Homo sapiens: one gene and its partners. The protein of the gene in region 1 purifies or fractionates together with the protein of each later gene. This does not show direct contact. Each region holds a gene or a part of one and is shown in the gene's direction. Other genes may lie near its edges. The genes, in order: TOM1, URGCP, PAWR, DNPEP, ADAT3, NSUN2 and ME1.

Region 1 (4,348 bases):
TAAATGAATGAGAATGACTGTGCATAAATAAAAATATTTATGGGCAATGAAATTTGAATTTCACGTAATTTTCACATATCATGAAATATTATTCTTCTTCAGCTTTTTTTTTTCCCAACTATTTAAAAATATAAAGACCATCTGTAGCTCGAGTACCATACAAAACAGACTGAATTTGGCATATGGGTTCATAGTTTGCTGACTTCTGAATCGGAGCAGCTGGCCAGAGGCAGAATGATGGAGCACACTGTTCCTCAAAGTGGGGTACCAGAGCACCCACACTGGGGATGCTTGAGGGTGCTTATCCCCACAGTGTGCCCATGTGAGCCCTAATATCTTGAAGCTTCTGTTTCCTGATCCGTAAGTACAGGACCCACATTAGATCCCCAAGTTTCTGTCTTGAGGATGACAGAGCTTTGTCTAGAAAGGGCTTTGTATCAGCTGTACACATATTAGTAGAGCCCAGGGTGAGCTTGAGTCAGACTGAATGGTCTGAGTCCTGGTTCAGTCCTCAACAGCTTTGTTACCAGGAGCAAGTTACTTAACCTCTCTGTTCTTCAATGTCCTCGTCTGTACAATGAGGATAATAATAGCACCTATCAGATAGGGCTGTCGTGTTGTTGTGCTATAAAGCACTTCCTGCCAGACAGGAAGTCTCTGTAATTATTAGCTGTTGTGATTTTTCACTGGTGTTATCATTCCTGGGACCCAGTCTAAGTTAGTAGCCAAGCTAAGTGCCAGCCCAAGATTCTGACTCCAGTGCAGCCTTTGTGATGGTCTTTGTGTCCCTGGCAAATGAGCGGTCACTGGCTGGGTGGCCACCACATTCACAGACAGGTCAGGTTTCAGGCTGTGGGGAGGAGCAGATTCTTACTTGGAAATTAAGGCCTTTGCCTTCCCCTATGGATAGAACTGGTGAATAGGTTTTATTCCCTTAGTGAGCTCAAAGAAATAAGAGTATAGTCCCAGACTTCCACTCTTCTGGTTTTAGAAAAAAAAAAACCCAAACCCTCAGTGTCTCCTAATTAGCTTGAGGCCATCACCCCATGAGAAGCAGGGGGATTCAGGACAGTTTAACTCTTTACTGCCTTACTAAGGAGATCTTGATCTAGGCCAGTGCCCTCCAAACTTCTGTCTTTCATGTAGCTCATTTGTGATTTGTGTCTACCCCCATGCCACCTTCATTATTATTTTCGTAGGGTTTTCTTTTCATTAGCTTATCTGTTAAAATTTGACCTCATCCTATATAATTATATCCATGAAATCATGGCTTTGATGTTCGTGTTTTTTTCCTATCCTGCATTAAAGTAAATAATGCAGGAGAGGAAAAATTTAATGTCCCTCTAAAAATGTCTTTAAGTTTGCCCATGAGCCCACCTGGCATGATCCCAGGTAGCTCATTTTGATCACTGGGACGTAAGCAGCCTGAAATGGGGTCACAGCTTAGTCTCCGCATCAGAAGAGCTGGGTTCAGGTGCCAGCTCCGCCCCTTCCCGGCTGTGTCCCCCAGGTCTCCTCCTCAAGGGACACGGGAAACTTAGAAGTTGATAGAGCACTGCAAAGTGCGGTGGAGAACCACTGTGCAAGCCCTGAGGAGGGGAACTGGGCCTCGCTCCTGCTGGGGAAGGTAGAGAAGGGAAGGACGGAGCCTGGAGTCTTCCCAGAAGGGAAGGACGGAGCCAGGGGAGAAGGGAGGGGGAGAGAAGAACCAGCCAGACCACAGGGGCTGAGACAGACAGAGAATTTAGGGACAGACAGAGGGGTCTACTGTTTGAACTTGTTTGTGTTGGTGCAGTATAAACCCTGTAGTGGTTAACTTTATGTGTCAACTTGGCTAGGCCAGGGGAGAAAGATAGTTGGTCAAACATTATTTTAGATGTTTCTGTGAACGTATGCCTTAGATGAGATTAACATTTAAATCACCAGACCCGCGTAAAGCGTATTGCCCTCAATAACATGGGTGGGCCTCGTCCAATCAGTTGAAGGCCTGAATAGGAAAAAGACTGACCTCCCCAGAACAAGAGGGAACTTGGCCAGCAGGCTCCCCTTGTCCTTGCACTTGGACAGCATCTGTTTCCTGGATCTCCAGCCTGCCAGCTCACCCTACAGATTTTCAACTTGCTAAGCCTTCACACCTGCATAAGCCAATTCCTTAAGCGCTCGCTCTTTCTCCTGTGTGTGTGTGTGTGTCTGTCTCTCTCTCTCTCTCTTTCTTTCTGCTAGTTCCTTTTCTCTTTTTTTTTTTTTTTCTTTTTTTTTTGAGACGGAGTCTCACTCTGTTTCCCAGGCTGGAGTGCAGTGGGGCAGTCTTGGCTCACTGTAACCTCCACCTCCCAGGTTTAAGCAATTCTCCTGCCTCAGCCTCCTGAGTAGCTGGGACTACAGGCGCGTGCCACCACACCTGGCTAATTTTTATATTTTTTGTAGAGGCAGAGTTTCACCATGTTGGCCAGGCTGGTCTTGAACTCCTGACCTCGTGATCCTCCCGCCTTGGCCTCTCAAAGTGCTAGGATTACGGGCATGAGCTACCACAGCCAGCCTAGTTCCTTTTCTCTAGAGATCCCTGACTAATACAAAGCCCACTCCACCCCTGACCATCCAGATTGTCAGCAATACCTTTTACACTCCCAAGTGGGGAGTGAAAACAAATGCCATCTGTACCTCAGCCAGCCACTTCAAGCCTCTGCCTTCACAGCCTCACTTCTTACCTGGGGAGTTTTAGAAAACCTTTCTTTATCTCACTGACATTTCCTTTTGTTAGGTACTATAGTTAGTTACATCGACTTTAACATTGTGGGTTGCGGAAGCAATACCCTCTGTAAGGTATTTTAGGGTTTCTCTTGTGGTTTATGGTTAAAAAAAATACAGGGGAGAGGCAGCCAGGGTTTTGAGGAAGGGTGGCTCAGCAAATTAGGAGATGGATGGAACTTTCCACGCTGGGTCTGGAAAGAGTTATTCCTTTGGAAAATAGTTTTCAAGACAAGTTTCTGGCTGAAAAAAAAATAGCTTCTGCATATTTGTGATTTAAAAATCTCTTATGGGGTGCTTGAAATTCTCAATCATGTTGTGGTTGATATGTTTGTAGAGGATAGCATTTATTTTGGTGCTTGAAATGTATACACTCCTCCTCACACATCCCTGGAAGGTGAGTGCTTTGGTCATCTTTATTCTGTAGAGGAGGAACTGAGGCACAGAGAGGCCGAGGAGTTACCCAGGCTCACACAGCTGGTAGGTGCTGGAGTCTGGGCAGGATTTGTCTGTGTCTGCATCCCATCCTCCCAACTTTTCCATCTCACCGATTCCCCCTTAGAACTGAAAGAGGCCAGGCGCAGTGGCTCACACCTGTAATCCCAGCACTTTGGGAGGCCAAGACAGGCAGATCGCCTGAGGTCAGGAGTTCAAGACCAGCCTGGCCAACATGGTAAAACCCCATCTTTACTAAAAATACAAACATTAGCTGGATGTGGTGGTGGGCGCCTGTAATCCCAGCTACCCTGGAGGCTGAGACAGGAGAATCGCTTGAACCGGTGAGGCGGAAGTTGCAGTGAGCCAAGATCGTGCCACAGCACTCCAGCCTGGGCAACAGAGTGAGACTCCATCTCAAAAAAAAAAAAAAAAAGAGAGAGAACTGAGAGACCTGCTGGGTTTCCCTTTGAGTGACAACATCTGTGTCCATCTAGAATGAATTCGTTCAGTAGTGGCTTCTTCTGTATTTCTGCCTAACCTTCTTGACCACATTGGTTTCATCCTCGTGCTTGCATTCTCACGGTAGGAAGCACAGGTGAAAGTACCAACTGTCTGTGTCTCTGTTACCAAGAAAGCAAAACCTTCCCCAGGAGCCGCCCAAGAGACACCCGCTTCCATCTCTGTGGCCAGAAGTCCCAGGGCTACTTCTGGCTGCAAGGGGGTCTAGAAAAGCTAAATGCTGTGAGCCCAGGGGGAGCATCTTCCACAACTATTGGAGTCAGCTCCACATGGTAGGGTTAATAAAAATTTCACATAGTCACTGAGTACAGTAATAGAAATACAGTATCTAGCAAGGACAGGTAAATGTGGCGTGTGGGTTCCCACACTGCATTTCCAGATGGACAGCATGGCTGGCCTATATCCAGAGGGGTCGGTCAGAATAGGGTGAAGGCTCTGGAGATCATTATCAGAGTGGAGTGGTCACAGGTCCTGAGGATGTTGGAGGACAGATTAAGGAGGGACGTGGTACTTTTTAAAAGTATTCAAAGGGTCACGGTGGCTCACGCCTGTAATCCCAGCACTTTGGGAGGCCAAGACGGGTGGATCACGAGGTCAAGAGATCGAGACCATCCTGGCCAATGTGGTGAAACCCTGTCTCTAC
Region 2 (4,348 bases), on another chromosome or scaffold:
GGAGCATCCTTCTCACTGTAGGTCAGATGTGGTGGTTCTGTTTTAAATTTGCTGAATTGTGACTTTTTTTCTTTTTCTTTTTTTTTTTTTTTTTGTTTTGGTTTTTTTTGAGGCAGGGTCTCACTCTGTCGCCCAGGCTGGAGTGCAGTGGTGTGATCTCAGCTCACTTCAACCTCCACCTCCTGGGTTCAAGCGATTCTCCTGCCTCAGCCTCCTGAGTAGCTGGGATTACAGGCGTGCACCACCATGCCTGGCTAATTTTTGTATTTTTAGTAGAGATGGGGTTTCACAATGTTGCCCAGGTTGGTCTCGAACCGCTGACCTTAAGCGATCCGCCTGCCTTGGCCTCCCCAAGGTGCTGGAATTACAGGCATGAGCCACCGCGCCCGGCTGACTTTTTTTTTTCTTTCTTTCTTTTTGAGACAGAGTTTTGCTGAGTCTCCCAGGCTGGAGTGCAATGGCAACAACATGGCTCGCTGCAGCCTCAATCTGCTGTGCTCAGGTATTCCTCCTGCCTCAGCCTCCTGAGTAGCTGGGACTACAGGCGCATGCCACCACACCTGGCTATTGTGGATTTTAAGAAATTTTTTTTGTAGAGACAGGGTCTTACTATGTTGCCCAGGTTGTTCTTGAACTCTTGGGCTCCAGAGAGCCTCCCACCTCAGCCTCCCAAAGTGCTGAGATTATAGGCGTGAGCCACCACACTTAGCCTATTGTGACTTTTTAGGGTCTCTAATACTTTCTTTTAGGGCACTAAAAACTTAATCTTAGATCCAGTTGGTATTCATTTGGGTGAATGAAGTGGTAGGGACCTACCTTAATTTTTTTTCCAGGTTTTTGTGATTGAATAAGTTCCAGATACTCAAAGCGACCTAGATCAGTGATGAAATTTTTGACTGCATTTGGACCTATTTCTGGGATCTCCTTTTACTGATTTCTCTGTATATTCATGAGCAACCTTAAATTATTTTAGACTATTTAATTATTATGTTCTATTTTCTGGAAAGTTTTGTCCTTCACTGTTCTTTTTCAAAATTTTCCTGATTGTTATTTCATAAATATTTTTTCACAGAATCAACTGGTTTTGAACCTCAATTTACTTATAGGTTAATTTAGAGAGAATTGACTTTTAAAATTATATTAAAGGCCAGGCATGGTAGCTCATGCTTATAATCCTGGCATTTTGGGGGGCTGAGGCAGATGGATCACATGATCCCAGGATTTGAGACTGGCCTGGGCAACATAGTGAGATCTCATCTCTTAAAAAAAAAAAAAAAAATTAAGCCTTTCTGCCTAAGATAGAATACTCCTTTAAACATTTTTTATTATATATATAAATATAAATATTTATATTTGTATTATAATAAGGCATATATTATAAATATATATTTATATAAAAATTTTTATATAAATATATATATACACTTTTTGAGATGGAGCCTCACTCTGTTGCCCAGGCTGGAGTGCAGTGGTGTAGTCTTGGCTCACTGCAACCTCCGCCTCCCGGGATCAAGCGATTGTCCTGCCTCAGCCTCCCGAGTAGCTGGGATTACAGGCATGCGCCACCACGCCTGGCTAATTTTCGTACTTTTAGTGGAAACAGTTTCACCATGTTGGCCAGGCTAGTCTCGAACTCCTGACTTCAGGTAATCTGCCTGCCTTGGCCTCCCAAGAGCTGGGATTACAGGCATGAGCCACCACACCCAGCCTTTTTTTTTTTTAACTCTTTCCTCTCTGAAAATCCAGAAATAGATTTCTTTTAAATTAAAATAAATTTATTTATTTATTTATTTATTTATTTATTTATTTATTTATTTTTGAGACAGGGTCTTCTTGCTCTGTCACCCAGGCTGCTGTGTACTGCAGCCTCAAACTCCTGGGCTCAAGCGATCCACCTCAGCCTCCTGAATAACTGGACTTAAGGCACATGCTCCTGGACCCAGTTAATTTTTAAATTTTCTGTAGAGTGGGGTTTCACTGTGTTGCTCAGGCTGGTCTTGAACTTCTGGCTTGGAACTCCTGACCTCAAGTGATACTCTCACCTTGGCCTCCCAAAGTCCTGGGATTATTGGCATGAGCCACTGTGCCCAGCCCTTTTCAGTTCTTCAAGTCTTAATCAGATTCAGTATTTTAAAATTCTTCTCAAATAGGTGTTGCACATTTGTAACATATTATTTTTCTTGTTGCTACTACAAATCGGAGCTCTCTCCTTCCATTGTTTCTAACCTATTTGTATAATAGGAAGGCAGTTACTGATTTTAACTTTGTATGTCCCCGGCTTACTGAATTCTCTCATTGTTTATGATAGTTTTCAGGTTGATCTCTTGGGTTTTCCAGGTCTACCTGCACCATCATTTCTTTGCATTATGGAGAAAATGCAAGTTGATTCTGTCTTTGTTGTGAGTACACTGTGGTGTCAGGTGGAGGTTGTAGAGCATGTATCTTTAGGGAAGTTGCCGACAGTGGTCTCTCCTATACGCGTTGAAGGATTGCCTTTATTAGCTCTCCAAACCCCTTCCAGCTCACGTGCTGGCTTAGCATATCCAAGGGTAGGGGTCTCGGGCCAGTCTGTCAGTGCCAATTTGCTCACGATTCCCTCAAGTCTTGCTTTACCCACAGACCTCCCTATCTGAGACAGGAGCAACTGATTGAACCTGGAAAACTTGAACTTATTTTGGCTTGTGTCTGTAGACACTTTGTGCAGTCTGTTGCAGTCCTTCACAGATGCTTTTGAGAGTCCAGCCACATGCCATTGCTGCTGGTACTATTGCCCAGGTCTGAGCCTTTGTTGTTGTTTTCCTGAATATAAGGCTAGATAATGGAGCGTTTGTGATCCCTTGTCTATTCTCAGCCTGGCAGCCGGTAACATAGACAGGCCTGTCACCCTGCACCCAGGGCCCTTTCATGGCTACCCCATCCTCTAGAATAAGAACAGCCAGAACCTTTTTTTAAAAAATCTTTTTTATTTTTATTTTTTTTCTCTTCCTCTTCCTCCCCAAAGCCTTAGTCTTTTGTGGCCTGTAAAGTTCAGTCGTCTCTAGCTTCTCCTGCTGCCTTCTCCTACTCACTGATCACTCTCTTGCTCAAGCCACTCGGGCCTCCCTGTTGGTCCCTGGGTACGTTAGGGCCTTTGCCCCGGCTATGCCTGCGGCAGTCTTCCCCTGGTAGTCATATAGCTCCTGCCTTCACCTCCTTCCAAACCAGTACTAACACGGCCCTTTCTCCAGCCAACCTGCTCTGCGCTCCCCACCACCATTCTCAGCACACCTGACCTTGGCCTGTGCCTTGTTTTCTCTGTAGCACTTAACATCTTCTAGCATAGCCTTTTAAATTTTTATTTATTTATTTATTTATTTATTTTGAGACAGAGTCTCATTCTGTTGCCCAGGTTGGAGTTCAGTGACAGGATCACGGCTCACTGCAGCCTCAACCTCCTGTGCTCAAGTGATCCTCCCACCTCAGCCTCCCCAGTAGCTGGGGCTACAAGTCCTACACTTCTTAAATATAGGGGATATTGTTGATTACCAATATCCCCTTGCCTTGTTGAACTGTAAACCAAGAGCAGAACCTTTGTGTCCTCATTAATGTATCCTAAATTCCTAGAAAGGTTCCTAGCAATAAATATGTGGATAAATCCAAGAGAACAATAAATATGTGGATAAATCTACAATAAATAATAAATAATAATAAGTCCACAATAAATATGTAGATAAATCCAAGAGAACTTTGCTTAAGATGTATGTAAGTCCCTTTGGATCCTTGTAGCACATCTGAGGCATGTGTGTCAGGGATGATCAGCCTCATTTTATAGGTTAGTATATGTGTGTTTGTAGTGTTTTTTGTTTGTTTACTGTTTGTGCAGTGAGTGTTCCCCTCTCTCTCCAACTTAATGGTAATGTAAGCTGTTGGAGAATTAAGGCTGTGTTTTAAAGCTCTATTTTCCATTGTATGGGGAAACTTACACAGTACTAACTTTTTTATCTTCTAGTTCTTTGACACTAAGTATGTAATAAATTGTAGTTAACCATATTCACCCTACAGAATTACAGAGCACCAGATCCCATTCTCCTACCTAACTGTAATTTTGTATCTTTTTTTTTTTTTTTTTTGAGACAGAGTCTCTCTCTGTCGCCCAGGCTGGATTGTCGTGGCGCAATCTTGGCTCACTGCAATCTCCGCCTCCCGAGTCAAGCAATTCTCCTACCTCAGCCTCCTAAGTAGCTGGGATTACAGGCGTGTGCCACCACGCCCAGCTAATTTTTGTATTTTTAGCAGAGACAGGGTTTCACCACGTTGGTCAGGCTGGTCTCAAGCTCCTGACCACGTGAGCCACCGCACCTGGTGTAAT
Region 3 (4,348 bases), on another chromosome or scaffold:
GTATAATGGATAGAGATTTGTTTCTATTTTGTTTTTCTTATGTAGAAAGTGTAGAGTTAGATAATTTCTAGTGTTGCTTCTGTTTTTTAGCAGCCTTCTCTTGTAAGCTTTTCCAATATGCTGTTACATGTGTAATTCTCTTTTTTTATATATCTGCAATTCCAAATTGTAGCCATTCTTTAAATTACAAGATTTTTTATAGTCTTTTCTAACTCTCCAGGTAAAAATACTCTTCCTTTATATGCTCATAGAATATAAAGCTAGAAACTGGGCCTTTATCACTAAGTTATCTATCTATCTATATATATGTATTATCTTTCCTACTAGATTATAAATTCCATTTCTTTAATGCATCCTTTGTTACCTTCTGCAGAATGCCTTGTTTAAGGTAGACGTAGTTTACTTATTGAATGAATGATAAAGAATGAATAAACCTTTCCTTTAAGAAAACCCTGTCACTGATGTTTGGAGTTTAGGGAAAAGATTTGTTGGCAGTGGTGTGGATATGGAAGTACAAGTTTTAAGCAGATAATTTATAGGAATTAAATGTACATATTGCTGAAAGAAAAATACTTTTATTATGCAAACTAATTTCTGAATGCACAAATATTTCTTTAATACTATCAATATATTTTCACATATTATCGAAACAGTCTATTAATAGTAGAAATAAAATGGAAACTCTTTTTTTCTTTCAGTGCTTAGATGAGTACGAAGATGATGAAGCAGGGCAGAAAGAGCGGAAACGAGAAGATGCAATTACACAACAGAACACTATTCAGAATGAAGCTGTAAACTTACTAGATCCAGGCAGTTCCTATCTGCTACAGGTGAGTATTTAAAAATACCAGGAAGTCACTATCTATTTTAATGGCAATTTTTCAATTATGCCTCTTGAGTTGTATGTAGTAATATATCTCCCATTGCCTCCTTTCCTCCTACTTATGCCTTCCTTACCATAAGTGGGTTCTGACATCACATGTTGGGCTCACCGTAAGCATGAACACTCTCTTCACCCTTTTCCGGCTTGTGCATCCTTTGATAGGCTGTTCTGTAGGGCCTCTGTTTGCTCCTGCTGAGACTCGGAGAACTCATGTCGGATTGCTCCTCCATGGGGACTCTTCCTCAACTTGATTAGGTTTTGACAACTCCAGGCCAGACTGCCACTCCATGTGAACATTCACTTCATCCTGCCTGCGCTCTGGCACAGAATACCCCATGCCAGGCTGCCTCTTGGAGGGTAGACATTTTTTACCCTGCTAGAGCTCTATCACCCTTTTCTGAGCCACCCTCCTGTAAAGGTAAACTTCACATTCTACTTGGGACTCTGGCTGCCCCTTTATGGGACTCCCTTTCTGACCTTGCCTCACAAATGAGGCCTTACCTTCCCTGCTTTGTAGAAATCTTCTTCATTCTGCTCAGGCTCTGATTTCTTAGGTCAGGCTGAGTGAGCTGTGCTATGTGAGCAGTCTCCTTGGTTTGCTTGGACTTGAATTCTCTATGCCAAGCAGCTCTTCTTTATGACAGGTTCTGATACCCTGATCTGAGCCACTGTGTTTTCTCACGTTGCTCTGCCCTGCCTAATGGCTTTAGGACTTAATTATTCAGGAAAGGAAGGGGAAGGATGAGTTTTTCCTTTTAAAATATTTGTTAATTTGATAAAGCTCTTATTTTTCATTTTCTTATTTTATCAGTTATATATTAGAGAAATTTTATTCTGAAGTCATCTTCAACAATATATCATACTAAATTATACATGGCAACATAGATATTTTAAGTTAGTCCTGAGGGTCAGTTAGCATGTTATGCCATAATTTTACTGAGGGCTGTGGCTTTGTTGCTAGATTATTTGAATAACATCAGTATTACTTTGCTGTATTCATCTGACTTGTATTTGTCTGATCTTATTTCACCTATGCTGTTATACTTGTTTATACGTTAGAAGTTCTGATCTGCCACTGTACCTGTAAAGACTGTTTTCATGGGGATTTCCTTATTGATCTTTATAAGCTTGAATAAAGCAGAGCGTTTTATTTAAACTTACACAAAACAGTTTGTGCTTTGCCAACATTTTCTCAGCTCTACATAGATCTTTCCCCTTCCCTTTAGTAATAGAAACCATCCCATTGCAAGGAAGATTGTTTCAGAAAGAGTATATTTGAAATCAGTTGTATAACAGACTTAAGGATTTGGGGGAGATCTAATTACGTAGTCTTTGAAACTTTTAAGACCAGTACCAGTCTTAACAGTTGTACTTTTTACAAGCCGTTTCAATGATACTAGTATAGCAGTACCCCCATATCAAAGGGAGTTATGTTCCAAGACCTCCAATGGATGCCTGAAATCATAGATAGTACTGAACGCTATATATACTATGCACATATTTGTTTTTCCTTCCTTACAATTTCATGGATAGAAGATATGTTCTTATCATAAAGCTTAGCAACTTCAGGATATGATTTTTCTTTCTTTCGTTATTAAGCTGAGAATTTTCACCTTTTTACTTAAAGCAAGCACTTTACAGCTTCTCTTTGGCATATCAGAATTGCCAGCATCACTACTCTTGTACTTTGGGGCAATTATCAAGTAAAAGAAAAGTTAATTGAACACAATCACTGGGATACCACAACAGTCTGATAACCAAGGTGGCTCCCGAGTGACTAATAGGTAGGGAGCATAGACACTGTGGTTACATTTTACAAAGGGATGATTCAGGCCCTGGGCGAGATGGAGCAGGACAGCACCAAGTTTCATCATGCTAGTCAGGACAACTCACAACTTAAAGTTTATAAATTATGTCTCAAGTTTTCTATTTAATATTTTAATTTATTAATTAAAATACTAAAATTTTATCAATTAAAATTATTAAATAACAAATATTAAAAATTATTAATCTAGCTTTATTAATACCCATGGGTTGACCATGGGTAACTGAAACTGTAGAAAGTGAAAGCTTGGATAAGGGAAAAAGGACTACTGTATTTCTTCATTTTTTTTTTCCCTATTTAGTATGGAGTAGTAATTATTAAAGTGCCAAATAATTATATAGTTGTTTCTTTGCCTGGAAATTGTTGTGGCTACAGAAATATAGTTAAGACATCTAAGGTGACGTTTATATTTGTGTGGAATTTTGTTCTACCATGTAAGAATGTCAAGCATTTTCCTCGTTAAAATTATCAGGGACTTATTTCAGTGAACATAATGTCCTCTGCCGTCATCCATTTTGTCGCAGTGATCTCACTTATATGTGGAATCCAAAAAAGTCAAACTCATAGAAGTAGAGAGTAGAATGGTGATTACCAGAGGCTAAGGTAGATGGAGAAAGGAGAAACATTGGCCAATGGGTGCAAAGTTACAGTTAGATAGGAGGAATAATTTCTGTTTTATTGCACAGTAAGGTGATTATAGTTCATAATAATGTATATTTCAAAATAGCTAAGAGTATTTTAAATGTTCTTACCAGAAAGAAGTGATAAGGGCCTGGTGCAGTGGCTCATGCCTGTAATCCCAGCACTCTGGGAGGCCGAAGTGGGTGGACCACTTGATGCCAGAAGTTCAAGACTAGCCTGGCCAACATGACAAAACCCCATCTCTTCTAAAAATACAACAATTAGCTGAGCATGGTGGTGTTCACCTGTAATCCCAGCTACTCAGGAGGCTGAGGCACAAAAATTACTTGAACCTTGGAGGCGGATGTTGCAGTCAGCTGAGATCACACCACTGCATTCCAGCCTGGGTGACAGCGAGACTGTGTCTCAAAAAAAGAAACAAAAAAAAAAAGAAGTGATGAGTATTTGAGGTAATTCTGTATAGGTTGTTCTTTGCATTGCTATAAAGAGACACCTGAGATTGGATAATTTATAAGAAAAATAGGTTAAATTGTCTCACACTTCTACAGGCTACACAAGCATGGCATCAACATGTGCTCAGCTTCTTATGAGGCCCTCAGGGAGCTACTCATGGAGGAAAGCAAAGCGGAAGCAGGCACATCACATGATAGGAGCAGGAGCGAGAGAGAGAGCGGGGGCAGGTCCCATACTCTTAACCAGATCTCATTGGTGCTAAACCATTCATGAGAAATCCACTCCCATGATCCAGTCACCTCCCAACAGGCCCCGCCTTCAACACTGGAGATTACATTTCAACATGAGATTTGGAGGGGACATCCAAAATATATCAGACATATATGCTAATTACTCTAATTTGATCCTTCCATAATATATACATGTATTGAAATAAAAATATCACTTTGTGCCTTATACATATGTCTAATCATTATTTGTCAATTAAAAATAAAGCTAAAAAAATTATAAGGGACCTTTCACTGCACCATATAGGTTGATTTTTT
Region 4 (4,033 bases), on another chromosome or scaffold:
ATGCCACAACATCGCAACAGCTGTGATGTCACTAGGCGACAGGAATTTTTCAGCTCCATTATAATCTTACGGGACCACTGTCATATGTAGTCTATCTTTGACTGAAATGTCACCATGTAGTGCATGACTGTCTATTTCTATATTTATCTGTCTACCTCTCTATATCAGGGACTCAGGCATGGGCGGTCCAGTGACAATCATAGCAGGTGTAGAACCGTGGTATCCTGACTCCCAGCCCAGGGCTCTTTCTGCTGCACAGTGTTCACTCTTCCTTTCGGAAAGCTGAATTGTTCTGCCCCCAGGAAGCCTTCTCTGAGGACGTGATATTTGAGCTGAGACCTAACCACTGAGAAATAGGCAGCTATGGGAGGGTCCCAGCCAGAGGGCACAAGTAGAAAGGCCCCAAGGGGGGCCAGGAATGAGCTCGTCTTTTAGGAGGAGAGAAAGGCAGGATGGTAGAGCCAGGATGAGAGCAGGAGAGGGTTAGGGGAGAGGCCCAGCTCAGTGATGATACAGGAATACCTAGGCCATGGAAGGACATTTCAATTTTATTCTAAGGCAGTGAGAAGACATTGGGAGATTTTTCTTTAATAATTTACAGCAGAAGTAGGACACATGTATTTTAGAAAATTAGAAAATACAGATAGAGATGAGAAAATAAAACACTAATCTGCAGAAATTTGGTATAGTCTTCCAGATTTTTTTCTATGCATAAACTTCATATACACTTTTTTAAAATGATATTATATTGGATATATTTTTGTTGCCTCTTTTCACTCAGTCATCTTCACCTTTCTATTTGAGTTTGGTTTTTTTTTTTAATGTTTTTTTAAAATTAGAAACAGGGTCTTGCTTTGTCTCCCAGGCTGGAGTGCAGTGGCATGATCATAGCTCACTGCACCCTCAAACTCCTGAGCTCAGAAGATCTTCCTGCCTCAGTCTCCCAAGTAGCTGGGACTACAGATGCATGCCACCATGCTGGCTAATTTTCTATTTTTAGTAAAAATGGGGTTCTTGCTATGTTGCCCAGGCTGGTCTTGAACTCCTGGCTTCAAGCAGTCCTCCCACCTTGGCCTCCCAAAGTGCTAGGATTACAGGCATGAGCCACCATTCCCAACCCCATTTCAGGAAATTGTTGTTTCAGTAAACTTGTACCTCATCTAATGCACAGATCACTTTCCGTTTTCCCCAGTTATCCTCAAAATATTTTTTTTACAGGTATTTGGCCCACCCTAGTATCCAACTCAGGACAATGCGTTATATTTGGCTGATATGTTGCTTAAATGTCTTCCAGTGTAGCACAGTTCCCCCCACCCCTTTTTAAATAGCATTGGCTTATTCAAGAAACTTCTGGATATGTCTCCTTGCTGCCCCATGGTGTCATTTAGCTTGTCTGTAAGCCCCGTATTTCCTATCAACTGGAATTTCTAAAGACTTGATGGATTCAAGTTAAACTTTTTTTTTTTTTTTTTTTTTTTTTTTTGACAGAGTGAGAGTTTCACTCTGTCGCCCAGGCTGGAGTCTAATGGCGTGATCTCGGCTCATTGCAACCTCCGCCTCCCTGGTTCAAGTGATCCTTCTGTCTCAGCCTCCAAAGTAGCTGGGATTACAAGTGTGCACCACGATGCCCAGCTAATTTTTGTATTTTTAGTAGAGACAGGGTTTCACCATATTGGCCAGACTGGTCTTGAACTCCTGACCTCAAGTGGTCCGCCCACCTCAGCCTCCCAAAGTGCTGGGATTACAGGTGTGAGCCACCGTGCCTAGCCTCAAGTTAAACATTTTGGGCTAGAAGACATGGCTGGTGTATTCATATGGCATCACACACATGATATCTGGGTGGGCCACCCTTAGCCTTGCAAAGATTGACCACTGGACCAGGAATGGCCTCTTATCCTTTCATTATATAGTGCTTTTCCCCTATTGACCTGACAGTGACCCATACAAGTGATGAGTTCCCTATTAACCAGATACCTAATGGTTTTAACACTTACAATAATCCTTGTCTAAATCAGTAATTTCATTAGAATTTACCGAAAAATGCCCGCTTCCCCTGAATTCTTTCAGTCTTCCATTCTTCTGTGAAGTGGAACTTCTTCCCTCCAATCAACTAGGGTTCTTTGGTTATCATGGAATATCATTCCTATTGATTGGAAAGCAGGATAAATGCTAATTCTTTCTGTTATCCACTTTTCAAGGTGAAATGTCGTCTCAAATAGTGACAAAGAAAGATTTTTCCTTTTCCTTTTTTTTTCTTTTTCTTTTTTTTTTTTTAGACAGGGTCTCGCTCTGTTGCCCAGGCTGGAGTGTAGTGTCGCAATCTCAGCTCACTGCAACCTCCTCCCCACAGGTGCAAGAGAGTCTCATACCTCAGCCACCTGAGTAGCTGGGATTACAGGCATGCACCACCATGCCCGGCTGTTTCTTGTATTTTTAATAGATACAGGGTTTCACCATGTTGGCCAGGCTGGTCTTGAACTCCTGGAATCATGTGATCTGCACACCTTGGCCTCCCAAAGTGCTGGGATTACAGGCGTGAGCCAGCACACCTGGCCTGCTTTTCCCTTTCTGACTATCTTAGAATCATGGAATTTCATTTATTCAGTGTCCTCTATAATTATTATATTTGATTTGTGAATTGCCATGGCTTTGACCAGTGGGAGCCCCTTCAGCATAACTCCTGTGCCCTTTGACTCTTGGAAGTCTCCTTGCTTTTTGGCACAACAAAAATTGTAGACATGTCTTGTTCATTTCGCCCCCCAGACTTGGTAGTTTTTGGCAAGCAGTGGTATTAGAGACCATAGCCTGGCACTGCAAGTGTTCATTGTTCTTGGGGGAGGGGACGGTGCTTTGGGTCCATTTCCATGGACATAGCAAGAAAAAAGTACATATTTTAAAAATCATGAAGCCAGGTGTGGTAGCTCAGGCCTGTAATCCCAGCACTTTGAGAGGTAGTGGATCACTTGAAGTCAGAAGTTCGAGAACAGCCTGGCCAATATGGCAAAATCTCGTCTCTACTGAAAATACAATAATTAGCTGAACGTGGTGGTGCGTGCCTGTAATCCCAGCTACTTGGGAGGCTGAGACAGGAGAATCGCTTGAACCCAGGAGGCAGAGGTTGCAGCGAGCTGAGATTGCGCCACTGCACTCCAGCCTGGGCATCGCAGGGAGACTCCATCTCAAAATAAATAAATAAAATAAAATAAAAATTTTTAAATAAAAATCATGAGTTAATACTGTAATTCTTATTCATAAAATTATTCTTATTTAGTTAAATAGTTACTACCTATTTGATTTTGTAATTCTGTTTTCTCTTACACTGAAAACCTTGATATCTAGCATCATATTTTCATTTTCTTATTTTTTTACCATAATATAAAGAAAATCATTTCAAAATGTCAGTAGCAATATTTTTAAAGACACTGATACCACTGAGTGATTTTTTTCTGTGAGTGTGGATATTAAGCAAGAGGGTGACAAGGATGGATACTTTTAAAAATCCCCCTTCCTGCTGTGTGGAGAATGGATTGGAACTAGGGTGGTGGCAATGCAGATAGAATGGGACCAATTCAGAATATATTGTCCTTTGGGGTCTGCCATTTAGCATTGGCTTTGATTTTATGCTCCGAATGGACCATCTCCCAGGCCCCTTCCCACCCTGCAATTCTAAGATGGCGTCCTCCTTGGCTCTGATAAGCACACACTGCATGTTGCTCATGGGTCTCCTGCTCTCCCTAGGATCTCATGGTCCGGAATGACACCCCCTGTGGAACCACCATTGGACCTATCTTGGCTTCTCGGCTGGGGCTGCGGGTGCTGGATTTAGGCAGCCCCCAACTGGCCATGCACTCTATCCGGGAGATGGCCTGCACCACAGGAGTCCTCCAGACCCTCACCCTCTTCAAGGTAACACCCACCCCAGACCCTCTCTGGCAGCTGGGCTGCTTCCCCTCTAGTGCCTGGATTGGTTGCTGGGACAACATCGCCATCACAAAGTGACTGGCCTGAGTAATGGGGGCTGGTTGTCATGCTG
Region 5 (3,622 bases), on another chromosome or scaffold:
GCCTTCTGGGTGGGTGTGGTAGAGGGAGGGTCAGGTGGCCCCCTGCTGTTGGGGGGCAGTCGCTGTGGGAGTGAGTCGTCCCCCCGGGCCATAGCAGGTAGGTAGGAGGTGCTCTGGCAGTTGAGGCCGCCCTGGCCTGGGACAGTCAATCAGCCTGAACACTGTGCCTGTTCCGGGATTTTGACCTGCCCTCCAAGGGCGCGGCGGGCCCAGCCTGCAGTGTCCCGGCAGCTGCCTCCTCTCTGGGTCGTTTGTTTTTCATCAGACAGAGGTTGTACTCTTGGAGGGACAAGCGAGGCTGTGTTTGTCTTTTACCCTGGAGACAGTGGAGTGTTTGTGGCCTAGCAGGGCCGTGCGGGCCTCTCGGTCCTGGTCGCGCGTGGTGTGCGTTTTGGGAGGGCCCAGCGAGTCGGCTGCTATGGGCCCCACCTGGCACGGGGCCTCGGGCAGCGGCAGCACCTGGCGCTGCCTCCGCGCTTCCTGCTCCCGGCTCCCACTGCATCTCCGGTTCTGTGCTTTGTTGAACGCGTGAGCTTCGGGCAGCGCTGGGGCCGCTTCAGCGTGACCTCCAAGGCCACTGGCCTGGAGTTCCACTGGCTGCTGGTCCCCCATCTGTGGGGCGCCCCGGCGGCTGAGGCGTGGACCAGGCAGTGCATGTCGAGGAGTAGCACCCACAGCTGCGCGGCTGCGAAATGATCCAGAGACACATCCCTGTCTGCGGGAGGAGCCGTCCATACCAGCGGGGATGTGTAGTCCAGGCTGGCAGTTCAGGATCACCCGGCTGGAGTCATTTTAAGATCATCTGCGGCTTAGCCCCAGCACCATCTGAGGCAGTACTGTCTGCTAGAAATAACTGTGAGCACACAGGTAGTAAGGTTTTTAGGATTTTATTATTATTTATTTATTTGAAAAAAGGAACAGGGTCTCTCTATCTTGCCCACGTTGGTCTCAAACTCCTGTGCTTAAGTGATCCTCTCGCCTTGGTCTCCTGAGTAGCTGGGACTACATGTGCACACCACCGTGCCCAACTAATTTATACTTTTAAGCAATGTGGGCTGGGCACGGTGGCTCACACCTGTAATCCCAGCACTTTGGGAGGCTGAGGCAGGTGGATCACCTGAGGTCAGGAGTTCCAAGACCAGCCTGGCCAACATGGTGGAACCCCGTCTCTACTGAAAATACAAAAATTAGCCGGGCGTGGTGGCATGTGCCTGTATTCCCAGCTACTAGGGGGGCTGAGGCAGGAGAATCGCTTGAACCTGGGAAGTGGAGGTTGCAGTGAGCTGAGATCATGCCACTGCACTCCAGCCTGGGCAACAGAGTGAGACTCTGTCTGAAAAAAAAAAAAATGTGGGCTGGGCATGGTGGCTTACGCCTGTAATCCAACCTCAGGCCTGCGGTGCGAGTCTGTGGGGGCAGATGCAGGTGGGGGAAGGCTGGCCAGCTGAGACTGTGGTTTGGGGGTGTTCAGGTGGGGTGGATGCCAGAGATGTGGGAGCCAGAGGCGCTGTCCCCCAGGGCCCTGTGAGCAGTCCCTGCAGGCTGGCTGTCCCCACGCCTGCCTCTCTGCTGTGCTGTCTGCCCGCCTAGGGCAGGCTCCCTTCTAATGGGCGGATCCCGAGAGCTGGGGGCCCCACCAGCCCTTCCTCTCCAGTGGAGTGGCCCTACTGCCTCATGTCCACCTGTGCCAGCAGCAGGGATGGTAATGGCTCTACTATCTCCTGTCCTCACCTGTGCCAGCAGCAGGGATGGTAACGGCTTTACTGCCTCCCGTCCTCACCTGTGCCAGTGGCTGGGATGTCTTCACCTGTGCCAGCAGCAGGGATGTCCTCACCTGTGCCAGCGGCAGGGATGGTAACAGTGCTGGTGATGTCAGGCCGGGAGGTTCTCACCCGAGAGCCGCCTTGGCACACTGCCCGGCAGTCAGGGATGTTAGCAGGAGCCCCGGGAGTGATCCCAGCTCTTCCCGCAGCCCCACTCCAGCCAGGGCCTCCTCTGTGACTGAGTAAGCAGGGACACCCCAGTGGCTGCCTGCTCCACCCGACAGCCAGGGCCCACCACAGCTGCAGGAATGTGGTCAAGGGATGGGAAGTCGGGCCCACCAGGGGAGGGGCTGCGCTCCGGGGCTTACGTTTCGTGGCTTGTCTTCTGAGGTCTCTCTTTTCCTAGCCCTTGGCCGACTAGGGGGCGAGTGTTTACAGAAACCACTGGAGGTGGGTGTTCCGTGTCAGTGCCAGGCTGTGTGCTGTTCTGGGAGGGGGCCCCGTGTCCCCCACACTTGGCATGCTTGCTTTCTGTCACTGCATAGCAGACTCCGTGCATCTGTGGGCTTAATACAACACCCGCCAGCTCCCGGTTCTGTGGGTCGGGGCCTGAATGTGACATGGCTGGCTCCTCTCTGCGGGGTCTCACCGGGCTGGAACCCAGGTGTCAGCCAGGGCTGTGTTGTCATCTGGAGGCTCAACGGGGGTGGCATCTGCTTGCAACTCACGCAGGCGTTGGCGGAATTCAGCAGCTTGCGGCCGGGGGACCAAGGGTCCTGCTCAGTTCCTGGCCACATGGCCCTTCTGTCTGGAAGCCAGGCGCCGCCTGTCCCCGCTTCTGCTTCCAGGCTCTGGCTTCTGGAGATGCAGAGATCACATCAGTGGTTGCCTGGGTTGCTGTGTGTGTTGTAGGGTGGTGAGACAAGTTTTCTCTTAGGGGTGATGGAATGTTCTGGAATTTTATAGTGGTGATGGTTGCACAACTCCAAGTGTCCTAAGAGCCACTGAATAGGACACTTGATAGTTTTTGGTTTTTGAGGTGTCTTTTTTTTTTTTTTTTTTTTGAGACAGAGTCTCGCTCTGTCACCAGGCTGGAGTGCAGTGGCACGATCTCGGCTCACTGCAACCTCTGCCTCCCAGGTTCAAGCAATTCTCTTGCCTCAGCTTCCTGAGTAGCTGGGATTACAGGTGCGTGGCACCATGCCCAGCTAATTTTTGTATTTTTAGTAGAGATGGGGTTTCACCATGTTGGTCAGGCTGGTCTCGATCTCGTGGCCTCATGATCTGCCCGCCTCAGCCTCCCAAAGTGCTGGGATTACAGGCTTAAGCCACCACGCCTGGCTTTTTTGTTGTTTTTTGACAGTCTCGCGCTGTTACCAGGCTGGAGTGCAGTGGCGCGATCTCGGCTCAATGTAACCTGCGCCTCCCAGGTTCAACCTTCTGGGTTCTCCTGCAAGCCTCAGCCTCCCTAGTAGCTGGGACTACAGGTGCGTGCCACCAGGCCTGGCCAATTCTTTGTATTTTTAGTAGAGACGGGGTTTCACCGTGTTAGCCAGGATGGTCTTGATCTCCTGACCTTGTGATCCGCCTGCCTCGGCCTCCCAAAGTGCTAGGATTACAGGCGTGAGCCACCGTGCCCGGGTTTTCATTTTTTTTTTGAGATGGCATCTTGCTCTGTCAGCCAGGCTGGGGTACAGTGGCACGATTGTAGCTCACTGCAGCCTTGAATTTCCGGCCTCAAGTGCTCCTCCTGTTTCAGCTTCTCGAGTAGCTGAAACCACCGGTGTGTGCCACCACGCCCAGCTAATTTTTTGATATTTAGTAGAAATGGGGTGTTGTTATGTTGCCTAGGCTGGTCT
Region 6 (4,348 bases), on another chromosome or scaffold:
TCCAGCATACCCAGGCTCCAGATAGATGTGGACGGCAGGAAAGAGATCCTCTTCTATGATCGAATTTTATGTGATGTCCCTTGCAGGTATTTATCTTATTGGCCAAAAAGCCCAAATCCACTAAAGAAATCAAGTCAAATAGAGACTAAAATGAAGTTGTGCATGAATATGACACAATTGTACATAAGTCTTGGGGTGCGGAGAAAGATAGCGTGAGCCTAAACCAAAAGATGGACACGTAGATACGTCTTAATGAGAAGCAGCACAGCAGATGCTGGATAAAGAACAGAAAGGGGTGGTTGCAATAGCCTGCAGAAAGATAAAGAGAAAACAAAACAAAACAGAGAAAATACGTAAGAGGAAAATAGAATCGTAGACTCTTATTGTGGTGTGTTTTAGGATGTTATTGCTTGGAACAATTTGTGCACCCCAACTATTTTGTATTAGTTCTTCCAGTGAGTACAGTATATAAAAAACTTTGTCATAAAATAATACGTAATCACATTGGATTTTATGTTATTTAGTTGAATGAAAGAAATTTCGGAGTTCAAGCCCTTAAGAAATTCATTTTGCTTGTGTTTTTATACCTTTCTTGAGATAATACATCAACATTTTAGATATTTAGAGTTTAGATATAAAATAATACTCATGGTATAACTGAGTAACAAGTTTTTTTAAAAGGAAAGAAACAAAACTAAAGACATCATCTGTTCCGTTCCCATAGGAGGTGCACGGATGATGATCCCAGGTGATAATGACTTCTGAATGACATAAGTTTGTCAAGACCAGAATTCAAAAGCTGCCACAAAACTTGTTAGCACAGAATGCAAGCTTTAGATACGATACCACATTATGGAAGAATGCCATTTTGTTTCAGTAAGTGGCAGAGTTACTGCTCATGGCAAAACTCAGTATGAAACTTGCAGCTGGTGGCTCTGAATATAGCTGAGTGTTAAAATAATCTGGAAAAAGCCCTCTTTAAAGTAAAATTTAAAATACATCATGAACTAAAGTTTTTTTTTCCTCTAGGTTGCAATTTTTCAGTATTCCTTGGGGTCTCATGTTTTCCTACCCCTGTTTTTTGATCAGAAAGATAACTCGTTCCTTGTATCATATTCTGAGATCTGAGAACGCAGTGACCTTATGAGCAAGAGGTTGCAAGCTGGGGAAATTTCTGAAATTGTGGTGGGATTTCTACCATGCAAACAACTAGTGTACAGCCAGGAATGCCATTGCAAAGTGGGGATTACATCTCATGGGATAATTCCATCCTGCAGACCTAGTCCCTCGTGTACACGCGGCTAGACCATCAAGGAAAATCAGCATTTACAGAGAAAGCCAACAAAAACAGGCGTTACCTTCTGGGAAAACAGGGCAGATAAAATTAGACACAGAAAGTAACAAATCCAGTCTTTACTATAAAATATACATGGAAAGAGCTTCCATTAACAAAAACATGAAAATAACTTCCATTAAATAAAAGTAGAAAGTCAGAAATTTAACGGTGATTGTAAGAAAAATTTAGCTATTAGTAAGAAAAATTTAGCTATTATATTAGCTTAATTGAAATTACTATGGAAAATTTATTAGTCATTATTCATATAATTCTGATTAAAATGCCATTGTTGATTAACTGAGTTTTTCAATAGTATTTTAGGTTCTGAAAAACATGAAAATAACTTCCATTAAATAAAAGTAGAAAGTCAGAAATGTTTACCTGTGATTGTAGGAAAAATTTAGCTAATATATTAGCTTAACTGTGGAAAATTTCTTATTAGTCATTATTCATGTAATTCTGATTAAAGTGTCATTGTTGATTAACTGAGATTTTCAATAGTATTTTAGGTTCTGTGTCCTAGGTCTGCAAATTAGTCTTGCTAGTGTTTTTTCCAAATGGAAGCACATTAATATCTCCTTAGTGAATGGAGTTTACTGTTCAAATCCATTATTTTCTGCTTGAAAATTGAAGTATAATTTAAAACTATAATACATTAGAAAATCCCTAAAACAAAAGCTGAAAGCAGATTGCAGTTGGTGAAAATGGAGATTGTTTCCTAACTGATATTTGTAACACTTGTTTTGTAACTTAGCTTGTATGTGACATATCTGTTAAAGTGCAGTCATCCACCTGTAGGGAGCTTTGCACTCATAAATATCTTTTTTCCAGTGGAGACGGCACTATGAGAAAAAACATTGATGTTTGGAAAAAGTGGACCACCTTAAATAGCTTGCAGCTACATGGGTAAGTAAAACTTCATCACTGCTAACACTGTGTGACAAGTAGATCAGCAGAGATTTATTGTTATGCAAGTGAGCATCCGATCTTTAATTAGAGAGCTGTAAGCATCAGAGGATGGTCAATGGCCACCTTCAACTGTTTTATCAGAAGTTATTTGAAAACCTTTCAAGAGCAATAACTGCAAATTGTATACATTTCAGATAACACGTTTATTAAAAATGCCTTCTATAAAAATTTCTTGCAACACTTCAGATATGTATTTTTCCATGAAATGACCGTTTACCTCTTGATGTATGCATTACTAATCTTTTCTCTCTGTTTTTGTTCTTTTGTATCATCGTTTTGCTAAGAGACATTTTGATCTCTTAGAAATATTTTTCGGTTGGCTTTTTATGATGGGGAACTATTCATTAAAGAACAATTGGAAAATTCTTAAAGAGAAATCTCATAACACGATGATCACGTCTGTTAATGTTTGGTGTGTTGTATTGTTTTTCTGTTTACAGGGATTTTTTAAGTACTTTTTCCAAATACTTTTGATCATGCTGTCTGTAGAGCAGTGTATTCTTTTTTTCATTTGACATGACAAATGCCATGGTCTTGCATGCAGGACTGTACTGTGCCTGAGCCACAGAATACTAATTAGCATCCACCACAACCAACTATAGCAGGAGGCCTCGTCTCCATAAAATACTGTCTACTGTTTTGTGACACAGAGACAAGAGTTAGGACTGGAATGTATGATACCAATTTTTCATAGAAAAACCACATATTTAGGAAGTATGGAGGTTTTTTAAATAGTGAAATTTCATCTAATACATTGAATTCTGTTGTTACTGAACTTTATACTCTGCTGGTTGACATATTGGGAAAGGTTAACAGAGCAGTAAGAATATTTATATAATACATTTTTTTTATTAACATGAAACACTTTATATAAGTTTACTCTAACTTCATTTAGATCCCTGGAAGGTTTTTTTTAAGTATAATTGTGTTATAAAAGCTTGTAATGAATATGTGACATAAGGAGGTGCTTCTAATATGTGCACTTCATGGATACATTTGGCCTTGCAGTCATCTGATATCTCCCCTTAGCTTACAGCTGCGGATTGCAACACGCGGGGCTGAACAGCTGGCTGAAGGTGGAAGGATGGTGTATTCCACGTGTTCACTAAACCCTATTGAGGATGAAGCAGTCATAGCATCTTTACTGGAAAAAAGTGAAGGTAAGCACGCTTGATGGATCTTTTATTAACAGCATAGGGGGCTTTTCATATGTGTATGGTACAATACACATAACGTGAGGTTTACCATCTTAATCATTTTTGAGCCTGCAGTTCAGTCCCGTTAGGTATATTCCCATTGTTAATCACCACCACCATCCATCTCCAGAAATCTTCACCTTGCAAAACTGAAACTCTGAACTCCTTTAAACAGTAGCTCCCATCTCTCTCTTCCCTGCCCCTCACACCACCGTTCTATTTTTTGTCTGTATGACTTTGACTACTCTAGACCTCACAGAAGCGGAATCATACTGTATTTGTCTTTTCGTGACTGGCTTATTTAACTTACTGCAGCGTCCTTGAGGCTCACTTGTGTTGTTGTCTGTGTCAAAATTGCATTGCTTATTAAGGCTGAACACTATTCTGTTGTTTATATAAACCGCATTTTGTTTACCCATCCATCTGTTGATGGACATCTGGGTTTCTTCCACTTTTTGGCTGTTGTGAGCCATGCTGCTGTGAGCATGGTATACAAATACCTCTCCAAGATCCTGGTTACGATTCTTTGGATATACACTCAGAAGTTGAATGGCTGGATCATATGATCATATAGTAATTCTGTGTTTAATTTTGGGGGGACCCCACCATGCTTTTTTTCACAGTGGCTGCGTCATTTTGTATTTCTACCCCCAGTGCACAAGGGTTCCAATTTCTCTACACATTCAGGGACACTTATTATCTGGGGCTCTTTGTTGTTAGTAGCCATCCTAATGGGTGTGAGGTCACCTCATACAGTTTTATACTGAGGAACTGACAGATAGTACAGAATATTCTGAAACAGTAGTGTATTTCTACAGTGTATTGATATAAAATATTTCTCCTTTTA
Region 7 (4,878 bases), on another chromosome or scaffold:
CTGTTAAACTGTTTCCTCTCACATAAAACACCCTAACTGTAATGTGTCTCAGTTAATTCAGGAGAGTGAGTTGTGTAAAGTACACCTTTTTCTTAGATGTTGTAGGATTGAGTATTTATGGAGTATAGAATTAACAATGAAAGGTGTCATTTAACTTCAAGGATTTTTTTCAAAAAGAACTTTGTGATGCCTAGAAAATATTCTCTATAAAAACAACGAATTCTAGATAATTCAGGCGAGGTCAAAGAAGCTTCTAAATGTAAATACGGACAAAATACAATTACTGTAAGAAATCTTTCTGATAAGGCAAAGTTAACATAACTAGAAATGAAAACACTGTGATTGGATGTGTGTCTAGTATATGGAGATATAAAATCAGCAAATAATCTCAAACACTATCCTTTGTAATATCAGTATGCAGAGACAAATGGGACAGAAACTAGCAATCCTATTTAACTGAAAAGGAAACTGGGGCACAGAAGGCTTTAGTGTCTGTTGCTATTAATTTATTTTTATCAGACAGGCACTCCTTTTGGCTATGATCTGACTATTCCTCCAGTCCATGAACCTCCAAGCATAAATATCAATAAAACAATAAAAAAATGGCCCGGCGCGGTGGCTCACACCTATAATCCCAGCACTTTGGAAGGCGGAGGCGGGCGGATCACCTGAGGTTGGGAGGAAGGCCTGAAAGACTGCTTACTCATCATTATTCAGAGAGAGCAGTGGTTCTTGAACATCAGGTTTCTAGAACTCCCAGAGAAATAATATACAAGATAAACAGGACTGTTCATTGGGCCTTTGCACCCTAACACCTTGACTCTTATCTTATTGACATTCAAATACAATTCCGGTGGAAAATCTGTAGAAACTGACAGGTGTGGCGCCTGAGCTCTCCTCTCTGGGCTTCCTCCCAGTTCCCTTGGGCCTCGGCATTCTGGGTCAAGGTTGGTTCCCTCCGGCCTCAGGGCCCCGGGCATGGCCGGCATCCTGGATGGCACGGCGAAGGTTGTGGATCTGTAGAAAGAGGGCTTCCAAGACGCTAACAAGACAGGAGAGACGAGTCTGATTCTCCTCAGCCTGTCGAGGTGTTCTGTCAACAGTTCTGGGGACCCCTCACGAGTCCTTCCGTCCTGTAATCCCCCTAGGTGTCTGAGCGACCGCCGGCTCTGCCTGAACCGCTCAGGTTCGCACCTTCTGGCATCTTCTCGCACTTTCTCCAGCCTTCCCGGGCAGGGGGATCCTGGCCTGACGCTCCCCGCTCCCTGCCCCCGCCCTGGGTCTCTGGGGTCAGCAGAGCCACCCAGTGCACTGCGTTTAGGCATGCCCACATGGAGAGAGGCGACCACAGCGGTGATCATAAGCCCATGGTGGGCAGAGGCCCTATGGAGCCAAGGGCTCCGGCCGCCACCCCCGCTCCGCCACCAGCAGCGCTGCCAGGACTCGCTCTTCCTCCTCCTCCTCACACGCCGGCTCGGATGATCTCCTGCCATGACTCAGCGCTTCTCGCAGGCTGCCCTGCTGGGGACACCGGCTTCGCTCGGGCCCCTCCCGACGCGTCCACCCCCTCTCGCCACCCACGCCCGCCCCCAGCCGCTGGGCCTTTCCCAGTGCGGCCGCCGCCGCCACAGCTGCAGTCAGCACCGTCACCCCAGCAGCATCCGCCGCCTGCACCGCGCGTGCGGCCCGCCCCGGCCTGACCCCGCCGCCGAACCCGGCGCCAGCCATGGAGCCCGAAGCCCCCCGTCGCCGCCACACCCATCAGCGCGGCTACCTGCTGACACGGAACCCTCACCTCAACAAGGTAAACCCGCAGGCCCACCTGGCCGCCCATCGGCCCCTCTCTATCAGGGTCAGGGCCCTCTTGCAGGTCCCCGCACCATGGCCTCGCCCCTCCGCCGCTCCCCTGGGAAGGTTCCCGGTGAGCGGCCGCGGCCTGGGGGGCCTTGGTGTGGGCAGAAGGAAGAAGGACGCCTAATCGGGTCCGTATCCACTAGAGTGATGGCAGGGCAGTGCTGGTGCCTCTGCACCTCGGCATCCCATGTTAGGGATAGAGGTAAAGGTAAAGGTTAGTGATAGAGGAAAAGGTGATACTTTTCGGCAGCTCTTCTCCAAAAACAAGAGCCCAGACAATGAAAGTAGTATCAGACAAAGTGTGTGAATGGAGTGCCAGGTCAGACTCCATGTGCCACTCACTTACTGGTTGCACACACAGTGTGGCAATTATTGGAAGTTGATAAGGCGAGAAGTGGCTCAACTGGTCCTGCCCAGACAGAAACGTGTACTGAGTGCCTTCAGATCACGTTAGCAATCTGGAAATCCAAGTCCTCTCGGTTTCTGGAGTGACACGGTTAAGAGTCTGGGAATGCGTGGTGGGTGGCCTCTGTCTTGGACACTTTGCATGGCTTGGTAGAAGAACTCTGTCCCAGACATGGGACTGTGGGTAAAGCCATTTCTTTTCTTTCTTTCTTTTGTTTTGTTTTGTTTTGTTTTGTTTTTAATTTGGCTTTCTGGAAGTTAAAAAAAAATTTTGTTTAGAGCTGCTCTCTTTTTATTAAAGGGGAATTCAGTGTACACCCTGTTCAGAGACTCCTTTTCGGATCCTGGTAACATTTCATTTTCCTTCACTGGTGATGCAATATAAGCACTCGGGATGTCTCTCAAATAAAAAATACCTCCGAATTTATCATTTTGCTTCCACACTTATTTTACAGCCAGGTTTGTCTCGGGATTGTTCCTTTTGTGTGTGTGTGTGCGTGCGCTTTGGACATTTCCTATTTATTCAGGAGTCTGAAAATGCCATCAGTCAGCACAGAGGTTTGTTTAGTTATTTTGGTTGTCTCTTTGGTGGACTGCATTTCACATTAAGAACAGAAGCTCAGCTTTTTCCTTGTCGTGTTCCTGATGATTTGTTGATCATATTAATGACTTAAAGACATGATTTATTTAACAAGTTATAGTCAGTGTGAGTGATTTTTTTTGTGTGTGTGGTGACAGGCACCTTTTACAAATCTATGACTGTGTGCTATCTGCCGTCATGTAGCATTATTAAATTGTAAATAATTCCAACTTATTTCTTTCTTTAAAATAAATTTAATTGCTAGTTTGATTGTTTTTTCTTTTCTTTTATTATTCTGCAGGTTTGCCACCTATTTTCAGTAGAACAAAAGTAAAATTTGATGTGACAAAACTATTTGTGACTTGTATGTGTCACCTGCCTACTGTAATTTATGACCAAGTTGTGGGTTGACACTTAAGAAGGACCACATGAGTTGTATAACCTGTTTGATTTTCCTCAAGTTGGGGGCAAGAGTGTCTATTAAGAGTATGTAGATGGCATGAGCAATCCCTGAGCAAGAGTAATTATTGCCTTTACTATGCTTACATCAAGAATTTATTATTATTATTATTATTATTTGAGACGGAGTCGCGCTCTGTCGCCCAGGTTGGAGTGCAGTGGCGCGATCTCCGCTCACTGCAAGCTCCACCTCCTGGGTTCACGCCATTCTCCTGCCTCAGCCTCCCGAGTAGCTGAGACTACAAGCGCCCGCCACCATGCCCGGCAAATTTTTTGTACTTTTAGTACAGACTGGGTTTCACCGTGTTAGTCAGGATTGTCTCGATCTCCTGGCTTCGTGATCCACCCGCCTCAGCCTCCCAAAGTGCTGGGATTACAGGCATGAGCCACCGCGCCCAGCCAAGAATTTATGATATAACAATCCTTGTGACTCCTGTTCACAAGGTTACTAGGAATTAAGGATTAATTCCTACTTCAGAATAATAGTATCACAAAGATCTTCTATCAAAGATAAGATGTAACATTAATATGTTAAAAGCACATTTTCAAATTTGTAATACTTGAACTTTTTATCTGCATTATGTCAAATTGGATCCACAATCCAGTGTACCAACTTGGAGGCAATCGATGGAATAATCTTTTACTCAGTTCTAGGATGGTTATCTGGTACCTTATGGGAGTAACAGAGTTTCCTATGTACCATTGAAACTACAGCTATGGGACTTTCTTCATCTGTCATACATTCAAGACCTCTAGGCCTTTAATTTTGCTAGTAGCTCAGGAATGTTTTGGCTTATTTTTATTCTTATTATTTTGTAATAACCTTGGCTCCAAAGAGACAAGAGTAGATTTTACTTCCCTCAACAACCCAGCCTGTCACATGTCTTCTTCAACCACACTAACACAGAACTTCATCATTTACCTTTGGGTAGCTGCAACAACAGTTTTGCTGGTTTTATTTCCATTGATATAGTTCATTCTACATATATATATGAAAGAGACACCTTCATTAATTAACATTTTCTTCACTTTTCTATTATCCAAGCATTTATAGTATGTTATTATTTCCTATTATGTTTAATGTAAAATCAGTCTGTCAATTGGGTTTACAGTCTTCTCCAAATTTATCTTATTCGTTCCCCAATGTAGGCTTCCACTTAAAATATATTTGCTGAATCTCTTAATTCTTTCCTTTTTGTGTGTAATTTCTACTATGAAAATGTCTTAGTTGATTTAATAATGATCTTTCTAGGGAAGCATTTCTTAGTTATGTTAGTCTTATTATTTAACACCTCTGTTTTTATGTATTCAGTTGTACTATATAATTTTGTATTTACTAACTTGTCTTTTTATTTTCCTTTTTTTTTTTTTGAGACAGAGCCTTGTTCTGTTGCCCAGGCTGGAGTGCAGTGGTGTGATCTAGGTTCACTGCAAACTCTACCTCCTGGGTTCAAGTGACTCTTGTGCCTCAGCCTCCTGAGTAGCTGAGATTACAGGCATGTGCCACTATGCCCAGCTAATTTCTATATTTTAATAGAGACAGGGTTTGGTCATGTTGGCCACGCTGGTCTCAAACTCCT

Evidence for each region.
Region 2: the proteins of TOM1 (region 1) and URGCP purify together in Homo sapiens (co-immunoprecipitation; one large-scale study listed by IntAct). This does not show direct contact.
Region 3: the proteins of TOM1 (region 1) and PAWR fractionate together in Homo sapiens (co-fractionation; one large-scale study listed by BioGRID). This does not show direct contact.
Region 4: the proteins of TOM1 (region 1) and DNPEP purify together in Homo sapiens (affinity purification with mass spectrometry; one large-scale study listed by BioGRID and IntAct). This does not show direct contact.
Region 5: the proteins of TOM1 (region 1) and ADAT3 purify together in Homo sapiens (affinity purification with mass spectrometry; one large-scale study listed by BioGRID and IntAct). This does not show direct contact.
Region 6: the proteins of TOM1 (region 1) and NSUN2 fractionate together in Homo sapiens (co-fractionation; one large-scale study listed by BioGRID). This does not show direct contact.
Region 7: the proteins of TOM1 (region 1) and ME1 fractionate together in Homo sapiens (co-fractionation; one large-scale study listed by BioGRID). This does not show direct contact.

What each region holds. Positions count from the first base shown.
Region 1 is NC_000022.11:35,306,042-35,310,389, forward strand, and holds part of TOM1 (target of Myb1 membrane trafficking protein), read left to right. Parts: intron 1-4,348.
Region 2 is NC_000007.14:43,896,216-43,900,563, reverse strand, and holds part of URGCP (up-regulator of cell proliferation), read left to right. Parts: intron 1-4,348. UniProt on the Homo sapiens protein: May be involved in cell cycle progression through the regulation of cyclin D1 expression. May participate in the development of hepatocellular carcinoma (HCC) by promoting hepatocellular growth and survival.
Region 3 is NC_000012.12:79,617,558-79,621,905, reverse strand, and holds part of PAWR (PRKC apoptosis WT1 regulator protein), read left to right. Parts: intron 1-698; coding exon 699-830; intron 831-4,348. UniProt on the Homo sapiens protein: Pro-apoptotic protein capable of selectively inducing apoptosis in cancer cells, sensitizing the cells to diverse apoptotic stimuli and causing regression of tumors in animal models.
Region 4 is NC_000002.12:219,374,728-219,378,760, reverse strand, and holds part of DNPEP (aspartyl aminopeptidase), read left to right. Parts: intron 1-3,738; coding exon 3,739-3,906; intron 3,907-4,033.
Region 5 is NC_000019.10:1,907,769-1,911,390, forward strand, and holds part of ADAT3 (probable inactive tRNA-specific adenosine deaminase-like protein 3), read left to right. Parts: intron 1-3,622.
Region 6 is NC_000005.10:6,615,844-6,620,191, reverse strand, and holds part of NSUN2 (RNA cytosine C(5)-methyltransferase NSUN2), read left to right. Parts: coding exon 1-86; intron 87-2,167; coding exon 2,168-2,242; intron 2,243-3,334; coding exon 3,335-3,465; intron 3,466-4,348. UniProt on the Homo sapiens protein: RNA cytosine C(5)-methyltransferase that methylates cytosine to 5-methylcytosine (m5C) in various RNAs, such as tRNAs, mRNAs and some long non-coding RNAs (lncRNAs).
Region 7 is NC_000006.12:83,427,803-83,432,680, reverse strand, and holds the start of ME1 (NADP-dependent malic enzyme), read left to right. Parts: upstream 1-1,629; 5' UTR 1,630-1,726; coding exon 1,727-1,804; intron 1,805-4,878. UniProt on the Homo sapiens protein: Catalyzes the oxidative decarboxylation of (S)-malate in the presence of NADP(+) and divalent metal ions, and decarboxylation of oxaloacetate.